2 separate regions of the Homo sapiens genome follow, and region 1 is linked to region 2. Evidence: fine-mapped expression QTL. Tissue or cell type: whole blood. Region 2 holds a variant in brackets; the other region holds the start of a gene. All regions are shown on one strand. Distances are from middle to middle.

The links. PIP is the estimated chance that this variant, and not a neighbour inherited with it, causes the effect.
Region 1: it holds the start of SUPT20H, and the variant in region 2 is fine-mapped to the expression of SUPT20H in whole blood (INTERVAL, PIP 0.97).

What each region holds. Positions count from the first base shown.
Region 1 is chr13:37,053,884-37,064,420 of GRCh38, forward strand. SUPT20H (SPT20 homolog, SAGA complex component) reads right to left here and starts at 5,805. Exons shown (of 26, transcript NM_001014286.3): 1 at 5,676-5,805. RefSeq lists a silencer at 5,717-5,976.
Region 2 is chr13:37,087,331-37,097,867 of GRCh38, forward strand. No RefSeq gene overlaps it. Among named protein-coding and RNA genes, the nearest start is that of CSNK1A1L, 13 kb to the right of the region's middle. The variant G/T (reference allele first, on the strand shown) is at 6,041.

The sequences.
Region 1 (10,537 bases), 33 kb before region 2:
GAAGAAAAGAGAGAAGAATCAAATAGACGCAATAAAAAATGATAAAGGGGATATAACCACCGATCCCACAGAAATACAAACTACCATCAGAGAATACTATAAACACCTCTACGCAAATAAACTTGAAAATCTAGAAGAAATGGATAAATTCCTCGACACATACACCCTCCCAAGACTAAACCAGGAAGAAGTTGAATCTCTGAATAGACCAATAACAGGCTGTGAAATTGAGGCAATAATTAATAGCTTACCAACCAAAAAAAGTCCAGGACCAGATGGATTCACAGCCGAATTCTACCAGAGGTACAAGGAGGAGGTGGTACCATTCCTTCTGAAACTATTCCAATCAATGGAAAAAGAGGGAATCCTCCCTAACTCATTTTATGAGGCCAGCATCATCCTGATACCAAAGCCTGGCAGAGACACAACAAAAAAAGAGAATTTTAGACCAATATCCCTGATGAACATCGATGCAAAAATCCTCAATAAAATAATGGCAAATCGAATCCAGCAGCACATCAAAAAGCTTATCCACCATGATCAAGTGGGCTTCATCCATGGGATGCAAGGCTGGTTCAACATACGCAAATCAATAAACGTAATCCAGCATATGAACAGAACCCATGACAAAAACCACGATTATCTCAATAGATGCAGAAAAGGCCTTTGACGAAATTCAACAACGCTTCATGCTAAAAACTCTCAATAAATTAGGTATTGATGGGACGTATCTCAAAATAATAAGAGCTATTTATGACAAACCCACAGCCAATATCATACTGAATGGGCAAAAACTGGAAGCATTCCCTTTGAAAACTGGCACAAGACAGGGATGACCTCTCTCACTACTCCTATTCAACATAGTGTTGGAAGTTCTGGCCAGGGCAATTAGGCAGGAGAAGGAAATAAAGGGTATTCAATTAGGAAAAGAGGAAGTCAAATTGTCCCTGTTTGCAGATGACATGATTGTATATCTAGAAAACCCCATTGTCTCAGACCAAAAACTCCTTAAGCTGATAGGCAACTTCAGCAAAGTCTCAGGATACAAAATCAATGTGCAAAAATCACAAGCATTCTTATACACCAATAACAGACAAACACAGAGCCAAATCATGAGTGAATTCCCATTCACAATTGCTTCAAAGAGAATAAAATACCTAGGAATACAACTTACAAGGGATGTGAAGGACCTCTTCAAGGAGAACTACAAACCACTGCTCAAGGAAATAAAAGAGGATACAAACAAATGGAAGAACATTCCATGCTTATGAGTAGGAAGAATCAATATCGTGAAAATCGCCATATTGCTCAAGGTAATTTATAGATTCAACGCCATCCCCATCAAGCTACCAATGACTTTCTTCACAGAATTGGAAAAAACTACTTTAAAGTTCATATGGAACCAAAAAAGAGCCCACATTGCCAAGTCAATCCTAAGCCAAAAGACAAAGCTGGAGGCATCACGCTACCTGACTTCAAACTATACTACAAGGCTACATTAACCAAAACAGCATGGTACTTGTACCAAAACAGAGATATAGACCAATGGAACAGAACAGAGCCCTCAGAAATAATGCCACATATCTACAACCATCTGATCTTTGACAAACCTGACCAAAACAAGCAATGGGGAAAGGATTCCCTATTTAATAAATGGTGCTGGGAAAACTGGCTAGCCATATGTAGAAAGCTGAAACTGGATCCCTTCCTTAGCCCTTACACAAAAATTAATTCAAGATGGATTAAAGACTTAAATGTTAGACCTAAAACCATAAAAACCCTAGAAGAAAACCTAGGCAATACCATTCAGGACATAGGCGAGGGCAAGGACTTCATGTCTAAAACACCAAAAGCAATAGCAACAAAAGCCAAAATTGACAAATGGGATCTAATTAAACTAAAGAGCTTCTGCACAGCAAAAGAAACTACCATCAGAGTGAACAGGCAACCTACAGAATGGGAGAAAATGTTTGCAATCTACTCATCTGACAAAGGGCTAATATCCAGAATCTACAATGAACTCAAACAAACTTCCAAGGAAAAAACAAACAACCCCATCAATCAGTGGGCGAAGGATATGAACAGACACTTCTGAAAAGAAGACATTTATACAGCCAAAAGACACATGAAAAAATGCTCATCACTGGCCATCAGAGAAATGCAAATCAAAACCACAATGAGATACCATCTCACACCAGTTAGAATAGCGATCATTAAAAAGTCAGGAAACAACAGGTGCTGGAGAGGATGTGGAGAAATAGGAACACTTTTACATTGTTGGTGGGACTGTAAACTAGCTCAACCATTGTGGAAGTCAGTGTGGCGATTCCTCAAGGATCTAGAAGTAGAAATACCATTTGACCCAGCCATCCCATTACTGGGTATATACCCAAAGGATTATAAAACATGTTGCTATAAAGACACATGCACACGTATGTTTATTGCAGCACTATTTACAGTAGCAAAGACTTGGAACCAACCCAAATGTCCAACAATGATAGACTGGATTAAGAAAATGTGGCACATATACACCATGGAATACTATGCAGCCATAAAAAATGATGAGTTCATGTCCTTTGCAGTGACATGGATGAAGCTGGAAACCATCATTCTCAGCAAACTATCGCAAGGACAAAAAACCAAACACTGCATGTTCTCACTCATAGGTGAGAATTGAGCAATGAGAACTCATGGACACAGGAAGGGGAACTTCACACACCAGGGCCTGTTTTGGGGTGGGAGGAGGGGGGAGGGATAGCATGAGGAGATATACCTAATGTTAAATGACAAGTTAATGGGTGCAGCACACCAACATGGCACATGTATACATATGTAACAAACCTGCACGTTGTGCACATGTACCCTAAAACTTAAAGTATAATAAAAAGAAAAAAAAAAAAAGAAAATCTTCTTTTCTATAACTACAGGAGTTCTTATCCTGGCTGCACAAGAGTAACTTGCAGAGCTTCAAACTGTGGGATGCCTGTGACCCACCTGCTTGAGACTGATTAAGTGGTCTAGAGTGAGGCACAGTCCCCATTTTTGGAGCTCCCCAGACGAGTCAAACGTGCTGCCAGGGTTGAAGCTCACTCTGCCTAGCAAAGGATGGTGCGTAACATTTGCTCTGAGATAAGACTGGGCATGGTGGTTCACACCTGTAACCCCAGGACTTTGGGAGGCCCAGGTGAGAGGATCATCTGAGCTGAGGAGTTTGAGACCAGCCTGGGCAACATAGTGAGACTTGTCACTACTAAGGGAAGAAAAAAAAATTAGTCCAGCATGGTGGCACAGGTCCCAGCTACTCGGTAGGCTGAGGCAGGAGGATCACTTAAGCTTGGGAAATAGAGGCTGCAGTGAGCCATGATCACACCACTGTACTCCAGCCTGGGTAAAAGAGCAAGACCCTGTCTCAAAAAAAAAAAAGTTAGAAATAAAAATAAATAGAAAACATTTGCTCTGAGACTGATGACAAATAAAAATTATTTTTAATCTATTCACCTAACTTCATGTAACCACTACTGGGTGTCTACACAGCTGAACTAAAGCACAACTTCTGATGACAGAAAACAAGATTTTCCAGGTAAAACAGTTTTGCTTTGATTTTTGGTGAACCCCAAAGCTTTGTTTTTTGCCAAGCCATTAAAAAAAAAAAAAAAAAAAAAAGGAAAGGGCCAGGTGGGGTGTGGCTCACGCCAGTAATCCCAGCACTTTGGGAGGCAGAGGCTGCCAGATGGCCTGAGCCCAGGAGCAGTAGTTCCAGACCTGCCTGAGCAACATGGGGAAAGTGTCTCTACAAAAAAATACAGAAGGCCGGGTGCAGTGGCTCACACCTATAATCCCAGCACTTTGGGAGGCCAAGGCAGGTGGATTGCTTCAGCCCTGGAGTTCGAGACCAGCCTGGACAACATGGCGAAACCCCGTCTCTACTAAAAACACAAAAATCAGCCGGGTGTGGTGGCGTACACCTGAAATCCCAGCTACTCAGGAGGCTGAGGCAAGAGAATCACTTGAACCTGGGAGGTGGAGGCTGCAGTGAGCGAAGATCGCGCCACTGCACTGCAGCCTGGACGACATAGAGAGACTCCGTCTCAAAAAAAAAAAAAAAAAAAAGTTGGCTGGGGCGGTGGCTCAGGCCTGTAAGAGGCAGAAGCGGGTGGGTCACTTGAGGTCAGGAATTCGAGACCAGCCTGACCAACAATGGTGAAACCCAGTCTCTACTAAAAAAATTAAAAATTAGCCGGGTGTGTTGGCACACACCTGTAATCCCAGCTACTCCGGAGGCTGAGGCAGGAGAATGGCTTGAACTGGGAGGCAGAGGTTGCAGTGAGCCAGGATCGCCCCATTGCACTCCAGCCTGGACAACAAGAGTGAAACTCCGTCTGAAACTTTAAAAAATGGACTAACCTCCTAATACAACACAAACACAAGCACCATACAACTGTAAATGATTTACGATCATTTACAATGAGTAAGATATTACTCCTACCCTTGAAAAGCTCGTAGGAGGTTTAAGTTGAATTTAGGTGAACGTGAAAATTTTCTGACCACTGAATTTGAAGATGAAGATACACTATGTACTTTTCGGACAAAATGTGATGACTTTAAGATTTCTTGTCACTAAATTGGGGATGGGGGCTTACTAACTTTAAATTATTTAAGTACTTCAGACAAAAACTAATAACTTCATATCTCTCACAAAGCAAACATTCTGTCTATACACAGAATTTACTAGAACCTGTGAGGAAACTGTAATCATTATCATTTCCGTTTTACAGAATAAGGCAATCAGAACAACTGACTTTCCTAACATCACAGACCTAGATCAGAATTCAGAACTCTGTGTCCAATCTTAGGTCCCTTCCAATATTACAACCTGCAAACTAATCAAACCGGCATCTGTTTTTACATTTCTTTAAAAAAAGCAAAGCAATTAAAAAAAGGACCCAATTCTGCTCAGAGACGAATATGTATTTCTTAATTTGGATCTAACTTTATAACATGGTGATCAACCCAAGTACACTGTACTCGACTCCGAAAATCCTGCTCGTCACTTTATATTTTGAGTCCTACTAGAGACTTTGATGAATTGCACTCAAGAAGACGCGGCCCCCACTACGCAGTGGCTACGGGAGATGGCTTCCAGGGCAACTGTTCTCCAAGTTCATTTCTGAGCGCCGGGTAACCATGGCCAGTAATTAATCCAATTCTAAGCGTTGCTATCAATTCTACGCGTTGCTATCAATTCTACTGATTTCCCTGATCGACCAGAGTCTTCCCATTGCAGGAGCTTTTGTCACAACTTAGGCTTTACCTGTACAACCGTCATCTCCACAGAGGAGCGACAAGCCTTTATGCAATATGGACACCAAGAAAACCGCCTTCGAAGACACGCAAGGCAAAATTCTTGCCAGTGTCCGGAAATACCCGTCTCTGGAACCCAAAAGTCAAACTAAAATTAAAAGTTCGGCTTAGCAACACCGCGAAAGGCGATGTAGGCGTCCACCTGGAGTTTAGCTGCCTCAACCTCCGCCCCGGCCTGCCGGGTCTCTGGGGACCCCGTCTTCCTCCAGCGGGCTCTGGGATGCGGCCCGCTCACCTCTGACCCTGGCCGGATCTCGCGCGTCTAAGCCACCGCGTTGCCAGTCGCTGGCCACCCACCTACCGCCACCGCCCACCTGTGCGGGTCGCCTCGCCGCTAGGCCCCAAGACGGCGCCGCCTGCTCGGCAGCAAAGCCCACCCGCCCCGTCGGCGGCTCAGTGCTGCACCCCCACCAACAGCCAGTTCCGGCGGCCGCACTTCCGATTGGCAGGCTGGGCCGAGGGGCGGGGAAGGCGGGCGGAAGGGGAGGAGCCGGGAGGGCGGGGCCGCTGCCAGGAGCCTGGAGCGCTGCGTTCCGCGCAGGACGCCGGTGAGGCCCGCAGAGACTTGCGTCCGGGCGGGAGGCGGGGCCCAGGATCTCTGCTCAATCCTGGAGTCCGAGTCCGCAAAGTGGGAGGGAGGGTGTAGATGTGAATTTGGGGAAAAACGACCCTGTTGAATTTCTAGAGTGGAAGAAACATAGAACTAGCTTTTCTCTTTGCTTAGCACATACAAATGGAAAAACAGCGACACCGTTACCTACATTTACTAGTCCAATGCGTACAACCTTCTGTAGTATATCAACTGCCAATGAGTTTATGTTTTTAAAAAAACCACCCCAGAGAAGGGTTCTAAAAATTCAGAAACCGCATTACTAGCACACATTGTAAGGTCTGTTTTGTTTTGTTTGTTCGTTTGTTTTTCAGACAGAGTCTCGCTCTGTCGCCCAGGCTGGAGTGGAGTGGAGAAATCTCAGCTAACTGCAACCTTTGCCTCCTGGGTTCAAGCGATTCTCCCTGCCTCAGTCTCCGGAGTAGCTGGGATTATAGGCGTGCACCACCACACCCGGCTAATTTTTGTATTTTTAGTAGAGACTGTTTCACTATGTTGGGCAGGCTGCTCTTGAACTCCTCATCTCAAGTGATCCACCCGCCTTGGCCTCCCAAAGTGCTGGGATTACAGGCGTGAGCCATCATGCACGGCCTGGGGTGAATCTTTTTAATGAGCATTTATTATTTGCCGTTCACAATGCCAAGGGTCATAATGAATGAAAGTGTCTTGGAATTAGAGTTAGTGGTTGCACACATTATAAGTGTATTAAAGTACACTCCAAAATAAAATCCGAACACATTAAGTGGTTACTCCCATTCCTCCCTCTCTCAGCCCCTGGCAAATGCCAATCAGCTTTCAAACTGTGGTACCTATTACGGATATTTCATATAAATGGAATGTGTGACCTTTTGGTCTGTCTTCGTAGCATAATCTTTTGCAGGTTCACCTTGTACACCTTGTTGCATGTATCGGTACTTCATGTCTCTTTATGGCTACTATTCCACTGTACCTAGATGCCACAGTTTTACCTGTCCATCCACTGATGGACATTTGGGTTGTTTCCACTTTCGGGCTATTGTGAATAGCAATGATATGAACATTTGTATACAAGTATTTGTTCGAGTCCCTGTTTTCAATTCTTTTGGGTATAAACATAGTGGAACTTCTGGGTCTTATAGTAATTCTACGTGAAAATATTTGAGGAACCCATAAACAAATGTTTCTACAGCAGCTGAACCATTCATTTTACATACCAAGAGCATTGTCGGGGGATTCCAATTTCTCCACATCCTCACTAACACCATAATTTTCTATTCCTTTGATAGTAACCATCCCAAAGGGTATAAAGTGGTATTTTATTGTGGGTTTGATTTGCATTCCCTAATGGCTAGTTATCTTGAGCATCTTTTCATGCCCTTGTTAGCCATTTGTATATCTTCTTTGGAGAACTCTCTATTCAGGTATTTCCCCATTTTTAAATTGAGTTGTTTGTGTTTTTGTTGTTAGTTATGTGTAGTCATATATTCTGGATATTAGACCCTTATGAGATATATCATTGGTGGATACTTTCTCCCATTCTGTAGGTTGTCTTTTCACTTTCTTTGTAATATCCTTCAGTGTACAAACCTTTTTAATTTTGATGAAATCTAATTTATCTATTTTGTTACTTGTGCTTTTGGTGTCATCACCAAGAATCCATTGTGCAAGCACACTAGCTTTCATGTCTCTTCTTATGAGTAACTAATTCTATTGGATAAGGGCCCCACCTTTATGATCTTCTTAAACCTTAATTACCTCCTTATAGATCTTATCTCCAATACAGTGACATTGGGGTTTGGGGTTACATATATGAATTTTGTGGAGATATAATTTGGTCAACAGACTTCTGTACCCCTGCAATTCATGTCCTTATTGAATACAAAATACATTCATACCACTTCAACAGTCTCAAAAGCATCAACTCTAAAATCTGAAGTCCGAAGTCTCTTCTAAATATCACCTAAAACAGATAAGGGTGAGACTTGAGATATGATTCATCCTGATGCAAATTTTCTCCCCAGCTATGAAACTGTAAAACCAGGGAAGTTGTTTGCTTCCAAAATACAATGGCAGAACAGGCATAGAATAGGCATTCCAAACAAACAAACAAACAAAAATAGGAGCAAGAAAGGAAGGAAATAAAAGAAATAGGCAAAAAGGAAGGGATGACAGGTCCCAAGCAAGTCCAAAAATCTAGCAAGGCAAATTCTAGTAGATTTTAAGGCTCAAGAATAATCCATTTTGATTCAGTGCCCTGCCTTCCAGACCTACAAGGGTGGTGGCCCTGCCTTCTGGACCCTAGGTGGATGCTATACCTCTCCCCACACTCTGCCAGGCATGCTCTTCCAGGCAGAGTCTCATCCCAAAAGTTTTGCTAGGTAATGGCCTTGATAACATCTGAATTGCTTTGAGGTCATTCTCCCCTTTTCTTAAAGAATAGCACAAGTTTGGCCAGGTGCGGTGGCTCACGCCTGTACTCCCAACACTTTGGGAGGCCAAGGTGGGCAGATCACGAGGTCAGGAGTTTGAGACCAGCCTGGACAACATAGTGAAACCCCATCTCTACTAAATATACAAAAATTAGCCTGGCCTGGTGGTGCATGCCTATAATCTCAGCTACTTGGGAGGCTGAGGAAGGAGAATCACTTGAACCTGGGAGGTGAAAGTTGCAGTGAGCTGAGATCCCGCCATTGCACTCTAGCCTGGGCAATGGAGTGAGAATCTGTCTCAAAAAAAAAAAAAAAAAGGAATAGTACAAAGTTAGCAGCTGGATAGCTCTATTGTCCTGTCCTGTAGAATCTAGGACATGTAAAAGCCTTCTGTCATTTTTGTCTTGTCTGCATCCCCTTCAGTTGAAACAGGCAGTGTTTCTGCTCATATAATCTCATCATTTATTTATCAAATGATAGTCTAACCATACCTTTGGTGTTTTCTTTAGAATGTACTTTCTCATTTTCTGCAACATGACAGGCAGATAATTTTCCAAATATTTGAGTCTTGGTTCCTTTTTGCTTAATAATTTCTTCTTTCATTCATCTCTTCTTGCATTTTACTATAAGCATTCAGGAAGATCCAGGTCGCACTTTCAGCATTTTGCTTAAAAATCTCAGTTAAATATTCAATTTTATCATTCACAAATTCTGTCTGCCAGAAAACACTAGAAAACAAGTCAGCCAAGTTATTTGCTACTTTATAACAAGGACTGCCTTTCTTCTGTCTTCCAGTGACCCATTCTTCATTTCCATCTGAGACCTCACAAGAATGGCCTTTAACAAACATATATTTACCAAAATTGTGTTCATGATTATGTTTTCTCTAAGAAGATGGAGGCTTTCTCTTCAACTGTATTTCTGAGTTCTTACCAGAATTGCCTTTAACATCCATATTTCTAGCATGGAAATCTAGGCTTTTTCTAGCATGCACCTCAGAATTCTTTCAGCCTCTACCCATTACCTAGTTCCAAAACCACTTTCACATGTTTAGGTTTTATTAAAGCAACATGCAACTTCTTGGTAGCAAAATCTATCTTAGTTTGCTCAAGCCGCCATAACAAAATACCATAAACTGAATGGCCTAAGCGACAGAAATTTATTTCTCATAGTTCTAGAGGCTGTGCAGTCCAAGATCAAGGTGCTTGCCAATTTGGTTTCTGGTGAGGGCTCTTTTACTGGCGAGTAGATAGCCACCTTCTTTCTGCATTCTCATATGATAAAGGAAGCGGGAGAAGGAAAGGGAAACAGACAGAGAAACACACAGAGAAAGATATCTGGTCGTTTTTGTTGTTTTTTTTTTTTATAAAGATACTAATCTATAGCATCAGAACTCCACTCTTGTGATCAATTTAACCTCAGTTACCTTCTTATATAGGTCCCATCTCCAAATACAGTGACACTGGGGGTTTGAGCTTCAATATGTGAATTTTGAGGGGACATATTTAGTTCTTAGCAAATGCTATTATAAATGAAATTGTTTTTAATTTTCCAGATTGGTGATTGCTGATGTATAGAAACACAATTGATTTTGGGGTATTCTCTTAGTCTATTTTCTGCTGCTGTAACAGAATACTACAGACTGGGTAACATATAATAAACAGAAGTTTATTGGCTCACGGTTCTGGATGCTGAAGATTCTAAGATTGAAGGGCTAGCATCTGGTGAGAGCCTACTTGGTATGTATGTTATCCCATGGTGGAAGGACAAAGAGAGGGCTAGAGAGCAAGGGATCAAACTTGAAGCCTCAAGTTCTTTTACAATTGGCATTAATCTATTCATGAGGGTGAGACCTCATGACCTAAACAACTTACATTAGGCCTTACCACCCAACATTGTTGCATTATGGGTTAAGTTTCTAGCACGTCCTTTGGGGGGATATATTCAAACCATAGCAAGTGTTGGCCTTGTACTCTGAACATTTACTTATTAGCTCTATTAATTTTGTATGTGTGCCTACATGTGTATATTCTTTAGGATTTCTATATATAGAATCATGTAATCTGTGAACTGAGATAGTTATACTTTTTTTCTCCCAATTTGAACACTTTCATTTCTTTTCCTTGGTTAATTGCTCTGACCAGAGCCATCCCTTCAT
Region 2 (10,537 bases):
GAGGATATGTTGTCTTCTTATAATTTTCAGGCTGCTGACAATAATGCAATGATTTTGGGGCAGCATAGCCATGAAAGAGCAAGATGAGTGATGTTGACAAACACAAGGTGGCCTTAACTGTATTGCGGCCAGGCTGGTCACTCTGCCCACCTATGTGGCCACATGTGTCTCCACAAATTACTCGTAGGCAGTATAGTATTTAAAGTAACTAAAAAAAAAATAGACTCATTAAATGTTGAGAATGCTTTCACAGTTATTTAGTTAGTCAAGGTTAAGAAAAGAAAGGGAAAAAGGAGAAGCACAGTTTCTGTGCAAGTGTAAAGTATATAATGATGGCGAAATATTTTTCCTTCCCCAAAAGTGACTGAGGAGTTGCTATGTGGAAATGGAGGCAAATTGGTCAGGTCTCTTTTCTTTACAAATGACAGAAGCATACCTTGAACCAGTTTAGGCAAAAGAAAAGAAATGATCAGTTCACATGAGTGGCAAGTCCAAGATTTACAGCATTAAGCATGTTTATCTCCAGGTGCTCAGATAATGCTGTCAAATATCTGCTTCTTTTTTTCTATTCTTGGCTCTCTTTGCGTTTTTGCTGGCTTCATGTCTCTGTCTTTTCAAATGATAGGGAAGAGGGTCCCAAGTATATTCAGACCTAAATTTTTCTTCTAACTCTTAAGTATTCTCTACAATTTCTGCATCCGCATCAGTCTCTCAAAAAACAAAAATAACTCTGATTAGTCTTGCGTGAGATATGAGTTTACTCTGAACCAATCAAGCACTCATTGAAACCTGGGAAATGGGAGGTCTGACTGGCAAGGCTGAATCTTTAGCAGTGAATGTAGGGAGGTCTGATGGTTGGAATTGCATGGAACAGAGAAAATAGGACTCCTGAAAGGAAGGATGTGAGGCTGAAATCAAGCACTGGCGTACTTAAAGTTATTGGTAGTGTAGAAACATGAAAAGCAAAAGTAACAAAATAACATTGATAACTGGGAGATGAGGAAGAAGAGGAATCTAATCAATGTTCATCAAGTCAAGAGGGATTTGGGAAATCTGTAAGGACTGAGCCAAAGCTGAAGGAAAGCAAAAGTCTATTTCAATCATTTCTCTAGACAATTCCCAGGAATCTCACGATAGACCAACAGTTCAGAGTGACAGTAAAGTTATTGACAGTTTTGATCTGTAGCCAAAAGACCTAAGCCTACCTCAGAGAAACAGGCATCTGGCTAATCTTCAAGGAGGACTTTGTCTTTGTTACGTATGGGTAGCACAGGCAGGTAAAGAGACAGTTCAAATAAGTAATAGTGATGCCGCAGATGTTTTAGTAGACACACATTTAGTTCTAGAAGGAGAGGAAAGAACTTGCAGTCACAGGTACCATGGCTTTGAGGGGTCAGAGAGTAAGAATATGGGTGAGTCCTGGCCCCAAGGCAGGGGTCATTTGCTTCCTCCCTCTCTGCCGGTTCTTTATTGCCACAGAGTTTCTGAACTTGCTCAACAGTTTCACAAACAGATTCCAGGTCCCTTCCCAGAACCACTTACCAAGTCAAGCTACCTGGGGAGGGACATGAGAAATCTGAATTTTTAGTTTTTTTTTTTTGAGACTGAGTCTTGTTCTGTGGCCCAGGCTGGAGTACAGTAGCATGATTTCGGCTCATTGCAATCTCTGCCTCCTGGTTCAAGGGATTCTCCTGCCTCAGCCTCCCGAGTAGCTGGGATTACAGAAGTGCACCACCATGACTGGCTAATTTTTGTATTAATTTTTGTATAAGCTCTGCTATTACAATATATTCCCTGGTCACCTTCCAGTTTTGTCCCCTCTGTCACATGAGAACAAACATTTCATTAAATACAAAGGCAGGAGGGAAAGTTATGTAATTTATTCTCTGAGTCCCTAGATCCCAATACAGTTCCAGAATTTCCAGCATTAAGTTTAGCAGAGTGCTTCTAAAGATTACTTCCTATTTTAGTTTTATAAATTGGAGGGCTGGATTCTTACAAGAAGGCTATATACAGCTACTGGACAAAAAGTATGTGGAGTCGAAAACGCAAGAGAAAAAATACTCTCATCTTGGGACTCAAAGCACCAAAGAGAAACCGTTTGGTGAAATTCTGGGCCAATTTGAAGCTATTCCTCCTTAAGGAGAAAATGGTGGATCTGGGCTTTCAACACAAAGGAATATTTGATATCCTATTGTGATGGTTAATTTTATGAGTCAGTTTGTATGGGCCATGGTGCCTATACAGTTGGTCAAAATTTATTCTGGATCTTTCCGTGAAGGTGTTTTTTGGATGAGATTAACATTTTAACTGTTGAACTTTGAGTAAAGCAGATAACCCTCCATAATGTGGGCGGGCCTCATCCAATCAGTTGAAGGCCTAAACAGAACAGAGATGCCCACCCCTCAGCAAGACGGAATTCTGCCAGCAGATGGCTTCTGGAATCAGACTGCTGCTCTTCCTTGGGTCTCCAGCCTGCAAGTTTACCCTCCAGATTTTGGACTTGCAAAGCTTCTGCAATTATGTGAGCCAATTCCTTAAAATTAAATCAATCTCTCTCTGTCTCTCTGTCTCTCTGTCTCTCTCTCTGTCTCTCTCTCTCTCTCTCTCTCTCTCTCTCTCTCTCTCTCTCTCTCTCTCTATATATATATATATATATATATATATATATATATACATCTCCTGTTAGTTCTGTTTCTCTGGAAACCCTGAATAATGCATTTATTGATGTACTAATTATTTCCGATTCTGATTGAATATTAGGCTTTGCAGCATCAAGATTAAACCTCAGGTCCTTAATTCTCTGCCTGTCCCCAGCTCTACTGAAACTCCACTTAATTGAGGACCAAACCCAATGATCTGTAGTATATGTGTCATGTCACCCTGGCACCTGTTTGTTGGGGGAAAGGCTTACAGGGTGCCTGTATAAACTGGCCATAAAAATATGGGACAATAAGTTGTGGAAAGCCACAAGAGGCCTCTGAGGAGGAAAGCCTTCTTATCGCCATTATGTTCCCATGCTCTGAGCGAGACTTGCTCTCTTATCCATAAACACTGTGTTCAAGGAGAAAGACACTCCTTTGAACATTGGAATGTGGCCAGACGTGCAGGATCCTAGTTAAGCCTGCTCCCACTAGCTACTCTCCGATAAATTAAAGATATGCTGTTTGAGCACAAAGGAGATTAATTTAAACCACCACTGTTATAGATTATGTGTATGATGCACTGTCTCCCTTTCACCGTTCCCTGAATGTCTGCTTCTTAGATCTAAGTGACTGTATTCAATAAATAGCGTGGAGACCAGAGCTTGGGGCCTTTTACAGCCTCCATTTTGCAATTGGCCCCCTGGTCCCCACTCTTTATGCACTCTTAACCTGTCTCTTCTCATTCCTCCATTGCCACCAGACTTTGGATACCCTATGGGTGGTGATGAGGCTGGTCCCCAACACCTGTTCTTCTTGATGTACTGTGGTATCCTGGTGGGCTGTGAAGGAGAAGCAGGTGTGTTCCCAGATAGTGAATCCCACAGTCCTCAGGGTGGTTGAGTGGGACCTGCACTGCTAGCACCTCTGGTGGTGACCACCAGCCAGGCAACACTGGCCAGAGTTCCTTCAGGACCCATCTAAGCAAGTGAAGGATGACCTATGGTCCCTGCAGATGCCAAATGGAATGAGCAGCAGCTAACATTGGTTGCTTCATCAAAGGGCACATTACTTCCTGGACATTACTTCAGCACCCAGTTGCAAAATGCACCCCTGCCACGTCAAGGACAGGGAGCCAGTGAAGGTGCTGGAGAAGTGTTGATGTGTCAGCTCAAGGTAAGACAGGTGGAGGTGGGAAGGCGGTGGGGAGGCAGGGTTGGGGCTCTGAGCAGGGGCAGGGCCAGGCAGTCATCCCAGTCTCTGTATTTGTGGCTGATTTGCTCTGTAGCAGCAGAACAGAGACACTGTGCTTACCATGGGAAAAAGGAAGAAGAGGGAACTTACCTTCTTTTCTCTTACATTCCACTGGTGAGAGTTGGCCCCTTGGGAGTTAACCTCTGCTCACTTCAGAGGAACATCAGCCAGCACTTTTAGGAGCTACCAGGGAAGCAAAATGCTACGCTTTGCTTTGTGGTGGTTCTTCCAAGTCTGGAAATGGTAGAAGGAGCCAGAACTTCAAGGTGGGAAGAGACAGCCAAGCAAGATTCTGGGTGGAGTAGGCAGCTTCTGAAATCTGAAATGGTTCACAGTGGTCCCCACCTCCTGGGTTTTTGTTGTTGTTGTTGAGATGGAGTCTCACTCTGTTGTCTCGGCTCACTGCAACCTCCGCCTCCCAGATTCAATGAATTCTCCTGCCTCAGCCCCCTGAGCAGCTGGGATTGCAGGCATGTGTCACCGTGACAGGCTAATTTTCATATTTTTAGTAGAGACGGGGTTTCACCATGTTGGCCAGGCTGGTCTGGAACTCCTGACTTCAAGTGATCTGCCTGCCCCGGCCTCCCAAAGTGCTGGGATTACAGGCATGAGCCACCAAGCCCAGCCCTCATCTCCTGTTCTTTATGTCCTTGTGTGATCCCTTCTTCAGTGTGGGCTAGTTCTAGTGATATACTACTAATGAAGACAATACTGAAAAAGTGATGGGCTGTCCCTTCTGAGATTAGGTTTAAAAGACTGTGACTTCATCTCATTGGCACACATACTCCTTTGGCTTCTCTGATGAAGCCACCTGCCACATTGTGGGATGCTCTACAGGGAAGCCCATGTGGCAGGAAGCTAAGAGAGGCCTCTGGCTAACAGCTCTGAGGAACTGAATACTGTTAACAGTGATATGCATAAGCTTTCTCTCTTCCTCAGTTTAGCCTTGTATGACGTAGTTCCAACTGACACATTAAATGCAGCCTGATGAGTGACCCAAAGCCAGAGAAAACAGCCCAGATTGCTGACCACAGATACTCTGAGATAAAAAAGCTACTATCTGTGCAGTACTAATACAAATACTAATATTACCTGTGTTTGTACTAATACAAGCAACTCATCAACTGCAGGCACAGGATAATAGGAGATCCCGGTGGAGTTGGAAGGCTGTGGTGGCAGGAGTGGCTGCAGGGGAAGGGGCGAACACCTGAGAGCCTACTGCTGGCCCTGAGAGTCTCTGACAAGGTGCATAAGACCTGTGTGCTGTATCAGCCAAGTCCCACATTCTCAGAGGCCTCACAGCATGGTAGAAAGATAATATACTCTGTGGTCAGAAAGAAATGAGTTTAGCTCTGTCTGAGGTGATCGGGTCAAGTTGCTTAAACTATTTGAATCATTTGAATCTCAGTTTTCTTCTCCGTGAAGTGGGAATAATACCTCCTATTTAGAGGATTGGTTGAGCTACACATGTAGCAATACTCCTGACATACAGGGGCTTATAACACGTGGTCTTTATTTTGATGATTGTAGATTGTCGTCTTTGGTAAGCTTGAACAATTTATCTTGCTGAAACTCTTTCCAATAGACATTTACTTGACTTGATGCTTCTGAGACAACACCCTTTTTTCTTCTCCTATCTTTCTGGCTACCCCTTTTTCTTTTGGTGGCTTTTATTTTTCCTAACTACACTTTTATTGTTTGTTTTCTTCAAGAATCCATAATGGGGCTCCTTTTCTTCCTCTTCATATGCTTCCTGAGCAATCTTATCTCTGGGGGAATCATTTTTTTCCCTCTCCCAAGTCCCTGCTGGTCATAAAATGGGAACATACACCCCCAACACTTTCACCCATTTAGAAGCACCCATTTGGGAGGAGTAATATTTCATCCTTCTCCACATCTCTAACCTATCTTATATCCAGGAGGGGGAGTGACTTAACTTTTTGGTGAGATTGGAACAAAGGGTTCACTATATAACCCTAGCCTATGGTTTGCTAGAGTTCTTTCTCTCTCTCTCTCAGCTGGGCATTATCCAGCTATTTTGTTGAATTGAGCAGATAAGTTCAAAGTTGTTTAAAATTAAAGAACTATAGAGTCTGAATAAACATTGTTGACACAAATGCTTTAAGAATTCAAAGTGTAAGGCT[G/T]GTATTTACTATTTCATTTCAGGTAAGGAAGATTAAATACAGTTTTATTTTTAATCTCCCAAGGTTATAACCTATAATATTAAGACTATGTTAACCTTAAGTCTTATTCAAGTGTTTGTTGTAGGAAATTGTGTCAGCTCACTAAAGTTATACATTTTATTTGTCATAGGAAATTGAATTTACGCACCAACCTTTTGATAATTAACCCATGACTATGACTTCATTGATCTTACTAAAATTGACCTTACCTACATTTAAACTCTGCGCATTCTCTTTAGATAGGAAACTATCTCAAGCCCTTAGTTTAGATTTTTCTTCTTGCTGATTGTATACTTAAAATAAAATACCAAGTCTCACATTTTTACACTTCCAAATGAGGTCCCAGTCTACTCTTTCCAACAATAAGGGATATATTCAGATTCTTATTTGACTTTTTTCATATTTCTTGATTGATTCTGAATCTAGAGAGGAAGGATATAACAAACCGGTCCTTTTGAACCGTAATAAAAGCCAGGTATTCACTGGGGATTTGCTTTCATTGTAACATGCCACTTGGTGGTCAGCTTTTCGAGAAGGGAGGAGATAACGCCACTTAATTCTAGCACAGGCAGCTAATGACATTTCCGAAAAGACCCTGCGTTTCTCAAAGGGCTGAATTGGCTTTAGCCTTATCAGTCTATGTAGCCTTATTAATGCTTGTAATTTTGGTCCTGTTAAACCCTTGATTGCTTACTATATTGAGATTGTGAACTTGGGGATCATATTTTCTCATACACCACTTTGCTGTTACACTTGCACTTTTCTCTGTTTATAATACTCAGCTCTTAAATGCCACGTAGCCCATGGCTCAGTATTTTCTGCTCAAATGCTGGCTCCTCGAGGCTTCGTTTCCTGACCCTTCCTCTCCCCTGCATTTCAAAGCTTGATTTAGTGCTTCATCTGAGCTTGTTTCTCCTGGGATATGTATCTATGGAGCTCATGACAGTGTTGTCATTAAAACATACACAGATTCTTTCTGTTTTTGCTAAATAGATTATGAGTTCCTTGGGTGCAGAGATCATGGTTTTCATTTATGTAACTTTAGTGCTTAGTATCCTGTCAATGAATGTTTACTAAAAATAAATAAAATAAACAAACTCTGTTAAGTATAGTGACCAATTGTTCTAGCTGTGGACTAGTACCAACTTTTAACTTTATACTAACATAATTATTAACAGTACCCCCTTTCACTCTCAAAAGTGTTCCAGTTTGGAGGATAAATTCTAGGTCACCTTCTTCATAAGGAATCTTGGGGGAGATATAGAACTGAATTGCTTTTTTTTTTTTTTTTTTGCCTCTAAGAGGATAATGTTCTCAGATTTTCTGGAAAGCAGAGACAATGATTCTTATAAATTATAATAACAAAAATATCTCAATGATAATTTTCTTACCTACAAAATGAAACTAGCTAATGGTTTCACAGATTTCTGTGAGAATAAGTGTATTAGTTCACTATGGCTGCCACAACAAAATACCACAGTCTGTGTTGTTTAAACAACAGGCTTTATTTTCTCACAGTTCTGTAGGCTGGAAGTCCAAGATCAAGTTGTCTGCAGGTTTGGTTTTTCGAGGCCTCTCTGGAGGCTCGCAGATGGCTGCCTTCTTGCTACGTCCTCACATGGCCTTTTCTCTGTGTGCACATCGTGGTGTCTCTTCCTCTTTTTGTAAAGACACTAGTTATACTTAATTAAAGTCCTGCTCTTATAACCTCATTGAACCTTCATTACCTCCTTTAAAGTCCCTTATCTCCAAATACAGTCACATTGGGGGTTGAGAAGTCAACATACAATTTTGGGGAACACAATTCAGTCCATAATATGCATGTATAAATATATGGTGTGTGAATTTTAATATCCACACCTACCAACCCATATATAAAAAGTCATTTTGAAAATAACATGATGAGGACCTTTCTGTTTTGGACAGAATAATATAAATGGGTGGTAGAAGAGTTTTTTTTTGAGATGCAGTCTCGCTCTGTCGCCCAGGCTGGAGTGCACTGGCATGATCTTGGCTCACTGCAACCTCCACCTTCTGGGTTCAAGTGATTCTCCTGCCTCAGCCTTCCAAGTACCTGGGATTACAGGCACGTGCCACCACGCCTGGTTAATTTTTGTATTTTTCATGGAGATGGGGTTTCACCATGTTGGCCAGGTTGGTCTTGAACTCCTGACTTCAAGTGATCTGCCTTCCTTGGCCTCCCAAAGTGCTGGGATTGCAGGCATGAGCCACTAGGCCCGACCCTTTTTATTCAATCTCATATTATCAGATTATTTTGTTTGAGCTTTAAAAACAAATTTATTACTCTATAACAGATAATAATAATTTATTCATTTAAAATAATACATACAACTTCTAGGCTGGGCACAGTGCCTCACACCTGTAATCCCAGCACTTTGGGAGGCTGAGGTGGGTGGATCATTTGAGGCCAGGACTGTGCATGGCTGTTGTTCTCCATGCTTAAGAGGCCATAGTTGTGGCAGAACCTCGTCTCTACTAAAAATACAAAAAATTAGCTGGGTGTGGTGGTGGGCCCCTGTAATCCCAGTTACTTGGGAGGCTGAGGCAGGAGTATCACTTGAACTGGGGAGGCAGAGGTTGCAGTGAGTCAAAATCGGCCACTGCACTCCAGCCTGGGCGACAGAGTGAGACTTCATCTCAAAATAAAATAAAAAACAAAACAAAACAAAACAAAACAAAACAAAAAAATAAGAAACCATACAACTTCTAGACCTTGTCAAGAGAAGTCCTTGTCAGGGTACCATGCTTCAGAGGCCTGCTAGACCCCTTTATTCTGTGGGGTTAGGAGTCCATAGGCCAAAAGGACATGTGGGTGCCTAGATCTCTGGGATTTCTGCTCAAACATTCTCAAGCTGTATCTGGGACCTCTTTGGGCCTCCTTTGAGTCTCCATCCTCCTGAGTATGGTCTGTACCACTGGTAGTGTAGCACAGGCAATTGTTGCTTAAGAAGAAGAGTTCTGCTTCCCTCCTAACTACCATATTCTGGTGTGGAACTGCAAGGGATCCTAGGTAATTATGAGGCTATATAATAGATACAATAATAAATAGAACCTATTTTAGTTGATGGTTTGACTTGATTTTTTACCTTTCAAATATTTAAATCTATGCTGTATGAGTCTTCATTTGTATTCTTGCTCCAGGCTCCACACATATCAGGAGTGAACTTTTTATTTTTTTGAGATGGAGTCTCGCTCTGTAGCCCAGGCTGGAGTGCAGTGGCACCATCTCAGCTTACTGCAGCCTCCACCTCCTGGGTTCAAGCAATTCTCCTGCCTCAGCCTCTCGAGTAACTGGGATTACAGGCATGCCCCACCATGCCTGGCTAATTTTTGTATTTTTAGTACAGATGCGGTTTCGCCATGTTGTCCAGGCTGGATTTGAACTCCTGACCTCAAGTGATCTGTCCACCTTGGCTTCCCAAAGTGCTGGGGTTACAGGCGTGAGCCACCCTGCATGGCCTGGGGTGAAACTTTTTAATGAGCATTTATTGTTTGCCATTCACAATGCAGAGTGTCATTTATCATTTGATCTACACAACAGATAATTGGTAGGTCCTATTGCTGACCTCAGTTTACAGAAATGAAACTGTGGCCAAAGTCAACCCTGCTCAAAGAAGCAGAGTTGGGCCTGGAATGGAGCTCTGACCTCAGAGACTGAACTTAGCCCCTCTCCCCTACTCTAGGGCCATTCAAAGAGTGATAGTAATTTTCATTCGTTTTGAAGGACATAAAACATGAACTCATTGACCACAAATAGTCAGTTTGTCTGAAGATAATAATCGTCTGGGAATCTGCAACAAATTGTCCAGATTCCAAAATTTGCATTTTCAGACATAAGACTTATAAAAACTGCATGCATTATTCTGTGACTAGTTCTGCCTTAAGTGGTGTAACTGCACAACGGAAAGAGTGGGTAATCTTGTTCAAATGAAAGTTTCTTCAAATAATGGAGCAAATGACTTGCAGGAACCTACATGAAACTGAAAAGAAGTAGCTCCCTATCACTTATCAAGGAGCGTTGAAAGGTATGGGGGCAGGTAGTTTTTCCGCTCATCTTGAAATGAAATGATAATGGTCGAGAATTCCACCAACACATACGTATTTTTGCTCCTCTTTTTTTTGAATGTACACTACTGGCAGGCAGGATTCACAGTGTGTCTTTAAGTGCAGAACATTAGAACACATCTTTACCTACACATATACTAGAACTGTTGTCTAATTTAGAACAGAGTGTTCTTCCTTTGCTCCTTATTGGGCCCTAGTAGAAACTTCACAGGTCTGTAAGCAAGGTCATTTAGTGCCTTGCTTTTTTGCCCATCATGTTTATGTTTGTTCCCGATAAGACTGTTTTGTAATTCGGAGAATGACATCTTTTTTGTTCTTCACATGACCACGAATGTCCCAAGCTCCTGATGATTTGTAAACCACAAGATATAG